Linked DNA regions of Homo sapiens: region 2 is linked to region 1. The links come from fine-mapping of genetic effects on gene expression. Tissue or cell type: whole blood. Region 1 holds a variant in brackets; the other region holds the start of a gene. All regions are shown on one strand. Distances are between the middles of the regions.

The links. PIP is the estimated chance that this variant, and not a neighbour inherited with it, causes the effect.
Region 2: TYK2 starts here. The variant in region 1 is fine-mapped to the expression of TYK2 in whole blood (INTERVAL, PIP 0.99).

Annotation. Positions count from the first base shown.
Region 1 is chr19:10,337,800-10,345,899 of GRCh38, forward strand. ICAM3 (intercellular adhesion molecule 3) reads right to left here and starts at 1,825. Exons shown (of 7, transcript NM_002162.5): 1 at 1,740-1,825; 2 at 883-1,149. The coding sequence starts at 1,815. RefSeq lists enhancers at 431-1,179, 1,465-1,564, 1,785-1,834, 1,928-2,675, 2,676-3,423. The variant G/A (reference allele first, on the strand shown) is at 4,677.
Region 2 is chr19:10,375,762-10,383,861 of GRCh38, forward strand. It overlaps TYK2 (tyrosine kinase 2), which reads right to left and starts at 4,811. Exons shown (of 25, transcript NM_003331.5): 1 at 4,619-4,811; 2 at 3,854-4,018; 3 at 2,453-2,665. The coding sequence starts at 2,645. RefSeq lists enhancers at 4,709-4,868, 4,777-5,440.

The sequences.
Region 1 (8,100 bases):
TTTATTTTTGTAGAGACGGGGTGTCCCTATATTGCTCTGCCTGGTCTTAAATTTCCGGACTCAAGCAATCCTCCTGCCTTGGCCTCCCAAAGTGTTGGGATTATTGTTGGGGCCAGGCGCAGTGGCTCACACTTGTAATCCCAGCACTTTGAGAGGCTGATGTGGGCGGAACACCCCGTCTCTACTAAAAATACAAAACTTAGCTGGGCATTAGCTGGACCTGGGAGGCAGAGGTCGCAGTGAGCCGAGATTGCACCACTGCACTCCAGCCTGGGCTACAGAGTAAGAGACGCCATCTCAAAAAAAAAAAAAAGCTTGTTGGGGCCGGGCGCAGTGGCCCATGCCTGTAATCCCAGCACTTTGGGAGGCTGAGGTGGGCGGATCGCCTGAGGTCAGGAGTTCAAGACCAGACTGGCCAACATGGTGAAATGCCATCTCAACTAAAAATACAAAATTTGCTGGGTGTGGTGGCGTGCATGTGTAATCTCAGCCACTCGGGAGGCTGAGGCAGGAGAATCACTTGAACCCAGGAGGCGAAGGTTGCAGTGAGCCGACATCGTGCCACTGCACTCCAGCCTAGGCAAAAAGAGCGAAACTCTGTCTCAAAAAAAAAAAAAAAATGCTTGTTGGGGCCCAAGTTAATTGATTTCACAACTGCTGCCTTGGCATGAGATTGAGATGCGTCTCTATATCTCTGTCTCTGTCTCTGTGTCTCTGTCTCTGTCTATCTTTGTATCTCACACACAAATGTCCAGGTCTGAGCTCTGGGTCAGAACTGTGGTCCATTCTTTGCAAACTGAGGGTCCCCACTCTCCTGAGCCATTGGCCACTTGCCCACACCACTACCCAAGACCAGTCCCACCTCCGGACACGTCGACTCACTGTACACGGTGATGTTAGAGGAGCCTGTTATCTGAGAGCCATTGCAGTACACTGAGCAGAGGATCCGACTGTTGCCAGTCACGTTGCTGAGATTGAAGGCTGCCCAGCCCATGCCACTGGCCACCAGCTCCTTTGATAGGGACGTCTCCAAGGCGATTTTCTCAGAGCTGGGACAATCAGTACTGCAGTTCACAAACAGGGACCCTCCAGCAGAGAGCACAGGGTTCTGGGGCTCCACCCGCAAAAGGAACTCCTGCCCCTGGACACCTTCAGGAACATGAAGAAGTCCTGGTGTTTGTTTCCTTGTCCCCCAACCCACGCATCAACAGGCCCCACCATTTAACACCTCTCTCCTTGTGCCGAGACAGAAGGGTTCCTGCCTTCATGGTCCAGTGGGAAAGGTAGAATCCATCAGAGACCGGGGAGAACTCAGAAGGAGGCCAGAAGAGGCTCTGATCCAGCATAGGAGGAGGTGAGTCAGGGAAGGCTTCCTGGAAGCGGGGACCATTGCAGCCCGAAACTGAAGGCTAAGTAGGAGTTAGCAAGTGAAAGGGACAGGTGATCCTGGCAGAGGGAAGCACATACGCAAAGGGCAAATTTCAGGAGTTCAGATGGAGCAGGAAGCATGAGGGGTGTGTGTGTGTGTGTTAGGGGAGAGGGATGGCGTACAAGCCTATGCTGGGGCCTGACCACCTGAAGGCTGAACTAAGGAACCAGAACTTTCTCCCGAGGATACAGAGTCAGCGGCCAGGTCGCAGTGTGGCAGGATGTGAACAGCGTTGCGTTCTATTCCTCTACCCTCTACTGATCCCCAAAACGCAGCCCTCTCCAGCCCTCCCCGGCTTGACTGGTCTCACCTGGGGTCAGCAGACAGCAGACCAGCAGAGTCCAGCAGGCCCTGGGCCACAACACGGATGGTACCATGGTGGCCATTCTGACAGAGGAAGGTGCCTTCCTGAGGTGCCCGAAGGGCAGGCAGGGGAAAAGGCGGGGCCTCCCACTGCGACGGAAGCACAGCGGTTAAGATTGCAGAAGTCTGGGGACTGCACCTTGCCCAGGCCTGTGGGTGGAAGGGGATGCTGTGGCCCTTGGGGGCCAGGGTGGGGGACCCAGACGGGGCTCTGCAAAGTGGCCAGCACTGCTGAGTCTCCCCCAGGGAATGGGCTGGTCCCAGTTGCACTGCTGGCCCCCATTTGAATTCACAGGAAATGCTAACTAAACTGGTTTCTTTTGTTCTCAGCACTGGGAAGCCTGGGTGGGGGGGATGAGGCATCTCCTTCTGGCTGAACTTAGGTGGGTAGGGGAATATTCTGTCCCCAGAGAGGAAGTTAATGGGGAAAACTGTAGGCACCATTGTGTAGATGTTAAGGTGGGATTTCGAGGAAACATTAAAAAACAAAAACAAAAACAGAAACAGAAGCAGAGTCTTGCTATGTTGCCCCGACTGGTCTTGAACTCCTGGCCTTAAGATGGCCTCCTCTCATCTTGACCTCCCAAAGTGTTGCGATTACAGGCGTGAGCCACCACGCCTGGCCACCTTTGAAGATCTTGAGGATACCTCCCTATCTTTGAAGATCTTGGGGATCCCCCATCCCCTGCACAAAGAGCTAAGGTAGGTGATTTGGGGACAGCTGAGTCCCTGAGCCACTGTCTATCCAGGATTCTACTTGGTTTTTGTTTGTTTGTTTTGAGACAGAGTCTCACTCTGTCACCCAGGTTGGAGTGCAGTGGCGGGATCTCGGCTCACTGCAGCCTCTGCCTCCCGGGTTCAAACGATTTTCCTGCCTCAGCCTCCCGAGTAGCTGGGATTACAGGCATGTGCCACCACGCCCGGCTAATTTTTGTACTTTTTGGTAGAGACGGGGTTTCACCATGTTGGCCAAGCTGGTCTCAAACTTCTGACCTCAAGTGAGCTGCCCGCCTTGGCCTCCCAAAGTGTTGGGATTACAGGCGTGAGCCACTGCGCCCGGCCTTCCAGGATTCTACTTGTAACTGGCCTTTACCCCATCCTGTTGTCCCCTTGCCCACCCTTCCAGGCAGCTGGTCACTGCATTCCAAGGGAAGGCGCCAAGGGGACCAGGTGGGACCCCCACCTTTGACCTGCCTCTGACCTCAGGCCTCTGACCTGCCTTCTGGGCTTCACATCTGAGCTCCAGAGAGAGAGGCCTTGTTGAGAGCCTTGATGGGGCCCTGCACTCACCCACTTTCCCCAGACCTTGAGGTCACAGCACCTCCTCTCTCATCTAGAGCACCCCCACCTTCCTAAGCAGGTCCCTCCTCTATTCCTCTACCTTCCGAACAATCCATTTCCCACCTGGTGTTGAGAGAGCAGCTAAAACCCAAGTCTAGTGTATTTGTAAACAGCAGGGACCAGTAGCATGGGCCTGGTGCCTGTAGTCCCAGCTCCTTGGAAGGCTGAGGTGAGAGGATCGCTTGAGCCTGGGAGGTCAAAGCTGCAGTGAGTCGAGATTGTGCCCCTGCACTCCAGCCTGGGAGACACAGTGAGACCCTGTTTCCACAAAAAAAAAAAAAAAAAAAAAAGATGTCGGACTTACTGGCTCACGTCTGTAATCCTAGCAGCACTTTGGGAGGCTGAGGTAGGTGGATGACGAGGTCAGGAAATCGAGACCATCCTGGCTAACACAGTGAAACCCCATCTCCACCAAAAATATAAAAAATTAGCTGGGCATTGTGGCGGGCACCTGTAGTCCCAGTTACTCAGGAGGCTGAGGCAGGAGAATCACTTGAACCCAAGAGGCGGAGGTTGCAGTGAGTGGAGATTGTGCCGCTGCACTCCAGCCTGGGTGACAGAGCAAGACTCTGTCTCAGAAAAACAAACAAACAAACAAACATATATATATAATTTATAATACTTACGTAATAGTGAGACCCTGTCTCTAAAAATAAAAAAGAAAGAAATATTTGTAAATAAGTCATATTTCTTTTTTGTTTTTTGAAACAGAGTCTCACCGTGTCGCCTAGGCTGGAGTGCAGGGGCACAATCTCAGCTAACTGCAATCTCAGCCTCCTGGGTTCAAGTGATCCTCCCACCTCAGCCTCCCTAGGAGCTGAGACCACAGGTACACACCACTGTGCCTGGCTAATTTTCTGTAGAGACGGCTTTCACCATATTGCCCAGGTTGGTCTTGAACTCCTAAGCTTAAGGGATCTGCCTGCCTCGACCTCCCAAAGTGCTGGGATTATAGGCGTGCCCTGCTACACCCGCCAGTAATATTTCTGATAAAGAAGTATTTCTGGGCCAGGTGTGGTAGCTCACGCCTGTAATCCTAGCACTTTGGGAGGCTGAGGCGGGCAGATCACGAGGTAAGGAGATCGAGACCATCCTGGTTAACACGGTGAAACCCCATCTCTACTAAAAATACAAAAAAAAATTAGCCCCGTCTCTACTAAAAATACAAAAAAAAATGGTGGCAGGTGCCTGTAGTCCCAGCTACTCGGGAGGCTGAGGCAGGAGAATGGCGTGAACCCAGAAGGCGGAGCTTGCAGTGAGCCGAGATCGCGCCACTGCACTCCATCCAGGCTGGGCAACAGAGTGAGACTCCATCTCAAAAAAAAAAAAAAAGAGTATTTCTGGGCCAGGCGTGGTGGCTCACACCTGTAATCTTAACACTTTGGGAGGCCTAGACAGGCGGATCCCTTGAGGTCGGGAGTTCCAGACCAGCCTGGGCAGCATGCCAAAACCCTGTCTCTACTAAAAATACAAAAAATCGGCCAGGTGCAGTGGCTCACGCCTGTAATCCCAGCACTTTGGGAGGCCGAGGCGGGCGGATCAC[G/A]AGGTCAGGAGATCGAGACCATCCTGGCTAACACGGTGAAACCCCGTCTCTACTAAAAAAAATACAAAAATTAGCTGGGCATGGTGGCGGGCGCCTGTAGTACCAGCTACTTGGGAGGCTGAGGCAGGAGAATAGTGTGAACCCGGGAGGCAGAGCTTGCAGTGAGCTGAGATTGCGCCACTGCACTCCAGCCTGGGCGACAGAGCGAGACTCCATCTCGAAAAAAAAAAAAAAAGTACAAAAAAATCAGCCAAGCTTGATGGCACACACCTGTAGTCCCAGCTACTCAGGAGGCTGCAGCGGGAGGATTGCTTGAGCCCGGGAAGTGGAGGTTGCAGTTAGCTGAGATTGTGCCCCTGCACTCCAGCCTGGGCGACAGAGAAAGGTCACCTACACATGTTTAAGGGGCCTCTGCACATATCTCAAGCCATTGACAAGAAAGCAAGTACAGTCTGGATTGCAAACAATGTATAATTTAAGCTCCAGCTGATTTTTTTTTTTTTTTTGAGACAGGGTCTCAGTCTGTCACCCAGGCTGGAGTGCAGTGGCATAGTCTGGGCTCACTGCAACCTCTGCCTCCCAGGTTCAAGTGATTCTCCCGCCTCAACTTCCCAAGTAGCTGGGATTACAGGCATGCACCACCACACCCAGCTAATTTTTTGCATTTTTAGTAGAGACGGGGTTTCACCATGTTGACCAGGCTAGTCTCAAACTCCTGACCTCAGGTGATCCGCCCGCCTCGGCCTCCCAAAGTGCTAGGATTACAGGCGTGAGCCACCGCGCCTGGCCTCCAGCTGATTTTTGACAGCCACATTGTTGCTATAGGATCCTTTTTACGTGTGATGGTGATGGTCTCTGGTTCTCCTCATTCCCACAAAGGTTGTTGAACCACAGCACCAGTAACACTGAGAATGCTAAGGGCTCTAGCCCAGGCTTTCTCCCAGGTTCTCTGGTGTGCGCCCTCCTGGTGACAATGAAATTGAAGCTAATTGCTTTCACTGGTTGAGTCTCTGATCTTGAGTGGCTGTGTCCACATTTCATTTTTTTTTTTTCTGGTAGGAATAACTACTTTTCTGCATCCATGCTCCATAGACTCTGTCCTTTTCAGACATCCTGGGATAAAAAGATTTGGCTTTTTTTTTTTTCTTCTTCTTCCTGAGACAGGGTCTGGCTCTGTCTCCCAGGCTGGAATGCAGTGACATAATCATGGCTCACTGCAACCTTGACCTCCCAGGCTCAGGTGATCCTCCCACCTCAGCCTCCCTAGTAGCTGGGACTATAGGTGTGTGCCACTACACTCGGCTAATTTTTGTATTTTTTCTACAGAGGAGCTTTTGACATATTGCCCAGGCTGTTCTCGAACCCCTGGGCTCAAGTGATCCTCCCAACTCAACCTCCCAAAGTGCTGGGATTATTACAGGGGTGAGCCACTGTGCTGGGCTTTCACTCTTAGGCTATTAAACAATGAAGGTAGTTATTGATCCTATCTCTTTCATATTCTTCTTCTTTTTTTTTTTTTGAGAATGAGTCTTGCTCTGTCTCCCAGGCTGGGCTCACTGCAATCTCCACCTCCCAGGTTCAAGCGATTCTCCTGCCTCAGCCTCCTGAGTAGCTGGGATCACAGGCGTGCGCCACCACACCCAGCTAATTTTTGTATTTTTATTAGAGACGGGGGTTTCACCATGTTGGTCAGGCTGGCATATTCTTCTTTCTAAGAACTGAGAGTGAGGGGGCTGTATTGAATCTCTTCATGCACCAGGAACTGAGTTCTGAAGATGATCTTATTATTATCAGTATTTTTTGAGATGGGTTCTCACTCTGTTGCCCAGGCTGGAGTGAGGTGGTTCAGTCTTGGCTCACTGCAACCTCTGCCTTCCAGGTCCAAGCGATTCTCCTGCCTCAGCCTCCCAAGTAGCTGGGATTACAGGCGTCTGCCACCAGGCTTGAGCTACCACGCCCAGCCAAAAGAGCATATATTATGTATAGAAATAATAAGACGAGCCAGGTGCGGTGGCTCATGCCTATAATCCCAGGACTTTGGGAGGCTGAAGCGGATGGATCACCTGAGGTCAGGAGTTCGAGACCAGCCTGACTAACATGAGGAAACCCAGTCTCTACTAAAAATACAAAAAATTAGCCAGACATGGTGGCTCGTGCCTGTAATCCCAGCTACTCAGGAGGCTGAGGCCGGAGAATCACTTGAACCTTGGAGGAGTTTGCAGTGAGCCGAGGTCACACCATTGCACTCCAGCTTGGGCAACAAGAGAGAAACAACGTCTCAAAAACAAACAAACAAACAAACAAAACCCAAGAAATAATAAGACCATTTGGAATTACTGGACTAATAGAATAGTTAAGGTTTCTTATAGAGGCAATAAAATGTATTTTGAAAGAGCTGCTAACTATTGATGCTGACAGTATTTCATTCCTGTGAGTGACTCAAGCATATTATAAATAGCTAGTAAAAGCCTGGCCAACATGGCAACTAAAAATACAAAAAATTCACCGGACGTGGTGGCGCATGCCTGTACTTACAGCTACTTGGAAGACTGAGGCCCAAGAACCGACTGAGCCCTGGAGGCCGAGGTTGCAGTGAGCCGAGATCATGCCACTGCACTCCAGCCAGGATGACAGAGGAGAGAGACTCCGTCGCAAAAATAAAAATAAATAAATAAATAAATACCTCGTAAAGGGAACGGAGCCTGTGGGGTTGAGCAAAATGTACTAGCTGTGCCTGCAGTGAGTATAACAGCTTTACGATTATGAGGAAACAATTTTTTCTTTTCTTTTTTTTTTTTTGAGATTAAGTCTTGCTCTGTCGCCCAGGCTGGAGTGCGGTGGCACGATCTCGGCTCACTACAACCTCCACCTCCCAGGTTCAAGTGATTCTCCTGCCTCAGCCACCCAAGTAGCTGAGATAACAGGCGCCCGCCACCACACCCAGCTAATTTTTGTATTTTTAGTAGAGACAGGGGTTTCACCATGTTGGCCAGGCTGGTCTTTAACTCCTGACCTCAGGTGATTCACCCACCTTGGCCTCCCAAAGAGTTGGGATTACAGGCATGAGCTACTGCGCCCGGCCCCAGCCAAAATTTTTAATAGCAATGCAGAAAAAGAAGAAAACATGACAGGCGCAGTGGCTCATGACTGTAATTCCAGCACTTTGGGAGGCTGAGGCGAGCAGATCACCTGAGGTTAGGAGTTCGAGACCAGCCTGGCCAACATGGCGAAACCCCATCTCTACTAAAAATACAAAAATTAGCCAGGCGTACTGGCCCCACGCCTGTAATCCCAGCTACTCAGGAGGCTGAGGCAGGAGAATCACTTGGACCCAGGAGGCAGAGGTTGCAGTGAGCCGACATCGTGCCACTGCACTCCAGCCTGGGCGACAGAGCAAGGCTCCATCTCAAAAAAAAAAGTCAAC
Region 2 (8,100 bases), 38 kb after region 1:
AAAAAAAAAAAAAAATCTAGCCGGGCATGGTGGCACACACCTGTAGTCCCAGCTACTCGGGAGGCTGAGGCCGGAGAATCGCTTGAACCCGGGAGGCGGAGGTTGCAGTTAGCTGAGATTGCGCCATTGCACTTCAGCCTGGGACAGAGCGAGACTCCATCTCAAAAAAAAGAAAAAAAGAAAGACTGTAGTAGATATATTTGGAAGTGCAATTTCCTGTGCAGGAGGAGGGAAAGCCTTTCTTTCTTTTTTTTTTTTTTTTTTCTTTGAGATGGAGTTTCGCTCTTGTTGCCCAGGCTGGAGTACAATGGCACGATCTCAGCTCACTGCAGCCTCCACCTCCCAAGTTCAAGCAATTCTCCTGCCTCAGCCTCCTGAGTAGCTAGGATTGCAGGCACCTGCCACCATGCCTGGCTACATTTTGTATTTTTAGTAGAGATGCGGTTTCACTACATTGGCCAGGCTGGTCTTGAACTCCTGATCTCAGGTGATCTGCCCGCCTCAGCCTCTGAAAGTGTTGGGATTACAGGCATGAGCCACCGCACCTGGCCTTTTTTTATTTTTGAAACGGAGTCTAGCTCTGTCACCCAGCCTGGAGTGCAGTGCTGTGATCTCGGCTCACTGCAACCTCCATGTCCCAGGTTCAAGCTATTCTCCTGCCTCAGCCTTCTGAGTAGCTGGGATTGCAGGCACCTGCCACCATGCCTGGCTACATTTTGTATTTTTAGTAGAGATGCGGTTTCACTACATTGGCCAGGCTGGTCTTGAACTCCTGATCTCAGGTGATCTGCCCGCCTCAGCCTCTGAAAGTGTTGGGATTACAGGCATGAGCCACCGCACCTGGCCTTTTTTTATTTTTGAAACGGAGTCTAGCTCTGTCACCCAGCCTGGAGTGCAGTGCTGTGATCTCGGCTCACTGCAACCTCCATGTCCCAGGTTCAAGCTATTCTCCTGCCTCAGCCTCCTGAGTAGCTGGAATTACAGGTGCGCACCCCACGCCCGGCTAGTTTTTGTATTTTTAGTAGAGCTGGAGTTTTGCCATGTTGGCCAGGCTGCTCTCAAACTTCTGACCTCAAGTGATCCACCAGCCTCAGCCTCCCAAAGTGCTGGGATTACAGGCATGAGCCACCGCGCCCGGCCTGACTTTCTTTTTTTAATGACACTGGGTCTCACTCTGTCACCCAGGCTGGAGTGCAGTGACGAAACCATACCTCATTGCAGGCTTGAACTCCTGGGCTCAAGCGATCCTCTTGCCTCAGGCTCTCAAGTTGCTGGGACTACAGGCATGTACCACCATGCCTGGCTAATTTCTAAAAATTATTTTGTTGAGACAAGGTCTCCCTATGTTGCCCAGGCTGGTCTCCAACTACTGGCCTCAAGCAATCCTCCTGCCTGGGCCTCCTCAAGTACTGGGATTACAAGTGTCAGCTACTGCACCTGGCCAAGTTTTCTGATTTATTATATTTCTTGCTGTCCTCCCTACTAAAATTTCAGCTCTACAAAGGCAGTGATTTGCAGCTGCCACACAGTAGATGCTTACAAAATGTTCACCGAATGAACGGGTGGATGGATGGATGGATGGATGGATGGATGGATGGATGGATGGATGGATAGATGGATGAATAGGTGGGTGGGTGGGTGGATGGATGGATGGATGGATGGATGGATGGATGGATGGATAGATGGATGAATGGGTGGGAGGATGGATGGGTGGGTGGATGGATGGATGCATGGATAGGTGGGTGAGTGGGTGAGTGGGTGGGTGGATGGATGGATGGATGGATGGGTGGGTGGGTGGATGGATGGGTGGGTGGGTGGATGGATGGATGGATGAATGGATGGATGGGTGGATGGATGGGTGGATGGGTGGGTGGATGGATGGGTGGATGGATGAATGGGTGGGTATGGATGGATCGATGGGTGGATGGATGGATAGATGGATGAATGGGTGGGTGGATGGATGGGTGGATGGGTGGGTGGGTGGATAGGTGGGTGGATGGGTGGGTGAGTAGGTGGATGGATAGGTGGATAGGTGGGTGGATGGATGAGTGGGTGGGTGGATGTATGGATGGATGCGTGGGTGGATGGATGGGTGGGTGGGTGGGTGGATGGATGCGTGGGTGGATGGATGGGTGGGTGGGTGGGTGGATGAATGGGTGGATGGGTGGATGGGTGAAAGGGTGGGTGGATGGGTGAATGGGTGGGTGAATGGGTGGGTGGATGGGTGGATGGGAGGATGGATGGATGCATGGGTGGATGGATGGGTGGGTGGGTGGATGGATGGGTGGTTGGGAGGGTGGATGGGTGGGTGGATGGGTGGATGGATGGATGGATGGATGAGTGGGTGGATGGGTGGGTGGATGGGTGGGTGGGTGGATAGACGGATGGATGGGGCCCAGCTGCTGCTTGCACACCCACCCCAGTCCCCATGGTGCCAACGCCCCAGACTCACCAACTTTATGTGCAATGTGGATGCAGACTTCCTCAGCTGTCAGCGATGACTCACTGAAAGTGACCCAGGGCTCCCCGCCGCCTGGACCAGCCCAGTGCAGAAGCACCTTCAGGCCTCCCATGGCAGCCATGGGCTGGGCTCCATCCCCAACGGGCTTACTGCCCCTGGCCATCCCCCAGTGGCGCAGAGGCATGCTCCCGGCAGGTGGCTCAGCTGGAAAGGGGACAATCTGTCAGCTCCCAAGTCTCAGCCCAGAGACCCCTGTTAGCTCTTCAACCTTCCACCCACCCCAGCTAAGGCCTGAGGGGAAGATTCTGGGCTCCCATCTTGGCATGACATTAGAGACCCGATTCCCTCTCTGAGTCTCGTTTTCCACATTTATTGGACAGGGTTGGGGTATGCATCCCCACCTAGATCTCTCATCAACAATAACACTGAACCCTCCTCTCTTTCCACAAATTGACACAGATATAAAAATCTGCTCTGGCCAGGTACAGTGGCTCACGCCTCTAATCCCAGGACTTTGGGATGTTGAGGCAAGAGGATTGCTTGAGCCCAGGAGCTCGAGACCAGCCTAGGCCATATAGCAAGACCCTGTTTCTACAAGACGTTTTATTTTATATCTTATCTTATCTTATCTTATCTTATCTTATCTTATCTTATCTTATTTTTGAGACAGAGTTTCACTCTTGTTGCCCAGGCTGGAGTGCAATGGTACAATCTTGCTCACCACAACCTCTGCCTCCTGGGTTTAAGTGATTCTCCTGCCTCAGCCTCCTGAGTAGCTGGCGCCTGCCACCACACCGGGCTAATTTTTGTATTTTTAGTAGAGACAGGGTTTTGCCATGTTGGCCAGGCTGGTCTTGAACCTCTGACCTCAGGTGATCCACCCGCCTCGGCCTCCCAAAGTGCTGGGATTACAGGCGTGAGCCACTGTGCCCGGCCTCTACAAGAAATTTTTAAAATTTAGCCAGGCGTGGGGGTGCACATCTGTACTCCAAGCTACTCGGGAGGCTGAAGTGGGAGGATCTCCTGAGCCCAGGAGTTGGAGGCTGCAGTGAGCAGTGATCGCACCACTGCATTCCAGCCTGGGTGACAGAGTGAGACCCTGACTCTAAAAATATAAATAAATAAATAAATAAATAAGTAATAAAAATATATAAAAAGGGCCAGGCGCGGTGGCTCATGACTGTAATCCCAGCACTTTGGGAGGCCAAGGCGGACAGATCACGAGGTCTGGAGATTGAGACCATCTTGACCAACATGGTGAAACCCCATCTCTACTAAAATACAATAAATAAATAAATAAATAAATAAATAAATAAATAAAAAGTAAAATAAAAATCTGCTCTTAACACACCTCCCCAAAATAACCAGACAGGCAGATGTGGTCAAACATACCTGAGGGTGAGTCCTGGAGCTCCCTGTGTCAACTCAAGCAAGCCACTTAGCAATTCTGGGCCTCAGTTTCCCCATCTGGAAAAGGGAGGTCCTCAGGGTGTTGCCATCAAAAGATGGTTGTAATGTTTCAATATAGTTCCGCATATTACACATTCAGCACAGACCCTGATTCAGGCACACACAAAAAGAACAAATATGACCAAAACAAGAATAACATAATTGTTATTAGTTTCATCGTGGTGATGGCCTCTTTCAGGCCACAATTCTCCTCTCCCACATTTACCCCCATGAGTGACCTCAGTCCCTGTTGACTCCCCAAAGCCTAGGAGAGTTTATGTCCAGCTCCATCCCCCCAATCCAGGGCCTGAGCCTCCTGAGGGCGCCAGTATGGAAGTGGAGGGGCTGTCACTTCCACCCATGTTGCTGGTTTCCTCATCTGGAAAATGGGCATGTAACAGTGTCTACCTCAAAAGGCTGCTGGGAGGATTTAACGCGAGGAGGCAGAGAAAGTGCCTGGTATACAGTAAGCGCTTAATTAGCCTTTGCCATTAATACCTATTCATGTTATAGATGAGATCCCGGGGATGGGGCTTTCGCGGAGCCTACTTCCTCCTTCCTCCTTTCTCGTCCCCACTGGACCCAGACCCAGCTTTGAAGACAGGGTCGGAGTGAAGTTTGCAACTGGGAAGGCTGCACGCCCCCATGTCCTCCCCCCAAAACCTCTAAACCCGGCCGGCAACGGCGGGAACTGGGATGTGCACCCACCGGGCATCGGAGCAGTCCCGAGGCACCAGGTGCTCCCATCCAAGTGCAGCCTGTCAAGCGCAGCCAGTCCCCGCGGCTTCTTCCTGAGGACCTCCGGCCGCGCTCCTTCCGCGCCCGCGTCCAGACTCACCCTTCCGGGGGAACACAAGCTCGAACCCGGACCCCTCCCCGCTCCCGCGGGTAGCTACTGCTTGTCCCCCGCCGAGACGCCTCCTCCCATTGGCCGCCTGAAACGCACACGCCCATTGGCAGCTGCTCTGTTCTCCCTGCTCGTCACCATTGGATTTTTTTTTTTTTGCCATGGTGGCGGCACTCTCATTGGTCCTGGGGCTCATTCGTCACTCAGCCGCGATTGGCTGAGTCGGCACCCAGATGCGCTGTCGCTTCTGCTATTGGCTGGCACTCGGTGGACGGAGACGGGGGAGGGGCTTGCGAGAGGCGGGAGGGAGAGCGAAGTGTGTGGGCAACGCGGCCGGATCCTGGAGTTCCCCTCCGTGCTGTGGAATTGGGTCAGGCGTGTACGGTCCTGACCCTAGGACACAGCTGCATGTCCTCACCTCGGTGTTCAAAGCTGCACCGGCCACCATTCAACCCTCCGACGCCCTGCCCTTTGGCTTCCCCGTTCCATCCGGTCCTGTCTCCTTTCCCTCGTTTCTACCTGGCCGACTCCATCCTGCTGACTAGAATTCCCCCTCCTTCACTCCTGGGAGGCATTCCTCGCCCACCTGCCCCAGTCCTCTTCCTGATCACCTGCAGCCCTGTCCTCTGAAGCTCCCTAGCGGTCAGGGTAGCAGCTTGGACATCCCGCCAGACGTGAATTCAAATCCCCACTCCGCAAGTCGTGCCCATTTGCTGAGAAGCCTACAGCCAGAGCGTTTCACATACATTATCTCATTTGATCCTAGCAGCAATTCCCTGTATGGCGGCTCTTATTATCCCCATTTCACAGAGGAAGAAACTCAGGCATGAAGAGGTAACAAAGACCGTCCTCTGACCCTTCTTCTGTGCCACACCATAACCACTCCTCGACTTTGTCTTTCACCTGCCCAGCCAAGTCTTAGCAAAGAAGCCTATTAAGTCATCCGCTCATCCTTGATGTCTGATCAACTTCCTCATCTTCCACTTTTTTTTTTTTTTTTTTTTAAGATGGAGTTTCGCTCTTGTCGCCCAGGCTGGAGTGCAATGCTGCGATCTCGGCTCACTGCAACCTCAGACTCCCGGATTCAAGCGATTCTCCTGCCTCAGCCTCCTGGGTAGCTGGGACAACAGGCGCCCGCCACCACGCCCGGCTAATTTTTGTATTTTTAGTAGAGATGGGATTTCACCATCTTGGCCAGGCTGGTCTCGAACTCCTGACCTCGTGATCCACCCTCCCAAAGCGCTGGGATTACAGGCGTGAGCCACCGCACCCGGCCCTTTTGTTGTTAATTTTTAAATTTTGTGGCTAATTTTTAAATTTTTGTAGAGATGGGGTCTGGCTATGTTGCCCAGGCTGGTCTTGAACTTCTGGCCTCAAGCAATCATCCTGCCTTGGCTTTCCAAAGTGCTGGGATTACAGATGTGAGCTAAGACACCCAGCTCCATGGAGTTGGTCTTAACTGCCATGGCCAAGGGACATGTGGCTGCTTCTCTCTGAGTCAGAAAATATGGGTAAAAAGCCTCCTCACAGGGCAGCTGTGGACATTCAGTATGAAAATGCTGAAAGAGATCGGGAATGGTCTCTTTCACACCTGTAATCCCAGCACTTTGGGAGGTGGAGGCGGGCGGATCACCTGAGGTCAGGAGTTCAAGACCAGACTGGCCAACATGGTGAAACCCTGTCTCTACTAAAAATGCAAAAATTAGCTGGGCATGGTGGTGGGCACCTGTAATCCCAGCTATTCAGGAGGCTGAGGCAGGAGAATCGCTTGAACTTGGGAGGCAGAAGTTGCAGTGAGCCGAGATCACACCATTGCCCTTCAGCCTGGGCAACAAGAGCTAAACTCTGTCTCAAAAAAAAAAAAAGAAAAAGAAAAAGAAAGAAAATGCTGATAGAGGCCGGGCACAGTGGCTCACGCCTGTAATCCCAGCACTTTGGGAGGCCGAGGTGGGCGGATCATGAGGTCAGGAAATCGAGACCATCCTGGCTAAGGCGGTGAAACCCCGTCTCTACTAAAAATACAAACAATTAGCTGGGCGTAGTGGCAGCCTGAGGCAGGAGAATGGCGTGAACCGGGGAGGCGGAGCTTGCAGTGAGCCGAGATTGCGCCACTGCACTCCAGCCTGGGCGCCAGAGTGAGACTCTGTCTCAAAAATAAAATAAAATAAAATAAAATAAAATGCTGATAGAGACTTGTCCTGGCTGGATGCAGTGGCTCATCCCTATAAACCTAGCACTTCAGGGAGCTAAAGAAGGAGTACTGTCTGGGCCCAGTTCAAGACCAACCTGGGCAATATAGCAAGACCCCATCTCTACCCAAAATAAAAAAAATTAGTCTAAGGCTGAAGTATGAGAATCGCTTGAGCCCAGGAGGTGGAGGTTGCAGTGGGCTGAGATCCCACCACTGCACTCCAGCTTGGGCTACAGAGTGAGACTCCATCTCGGGGGGAAAAAAAATTAGTTAGTCCCAGCTACTCCGAAGGCTGAGGTGGGAGGATTGCTTGAGCCCAGGAGGTTGAGGCTACAGTGAGCCGTGATCACACCACTGCACTCCAGCCTGGGCAACTTGACCTCCTGGGCTCTGCTGTATTTTCTTCAGAGTCCTTATTGCAACCTGACATTTCATGGGAAGTTTCTTTCTTTTTTTTTTTTTTTAAAGAGACAGAGTCTTGCTCTGTTGCCCAGGCTGGAGTGCAGTGGCGCAATCTTGGCTCACTGCAACCTCTGCCTCTCAGGTTCAAGCAATTCTCCTGCGTCAGCATCCCCGGTAGCTGGGATTACAGGCGTGCACCACCACGCCTGGCTAATTTTTGTATTTTTAATAGAGACAGGGTTTGGCCAGGTTGGCCATACTGGTCTCGAGCTCCTGACCTCAGGTGATCCACCCGCCTTGGCCTCCCAAAGTGCTGGGATTACAGATGTGAGCCACCGCGCCCAGCTGGGTTTCTCTTCTTTCTTTCTTTCTTTTTTTTTTTTTTTTTTTTTTTTTTGAGACAAGAATCTCGCTCTGTTGCCCAGGCTGGAGTGCAGTGCTGTGATCTCAATTCACTGCAGTCTCAACTTCCCAGATTCACCATTCACAATCTTCCACCTCAGCCTCCTGAGTAGCTGGGACTACAGATGTGCATCACGATGCCTGGGTAACTTTTTTTTTTTTGAGGCGGAGTCTTGCTCTGTTGCTAGGCTGAAGTGCAGTGGCACGATCTCGGCTCACTGTAATCCCTGCCTCCCAGGTTCTAGCGATTCTTCTGCCTCAGCCTCCAGAGAAGCTGGGATTACAGGCGTGTGCCACCACACCCAGCTAATTTTTTTGTATTTTTTAGTAGAGATGGGGTTTCACCAT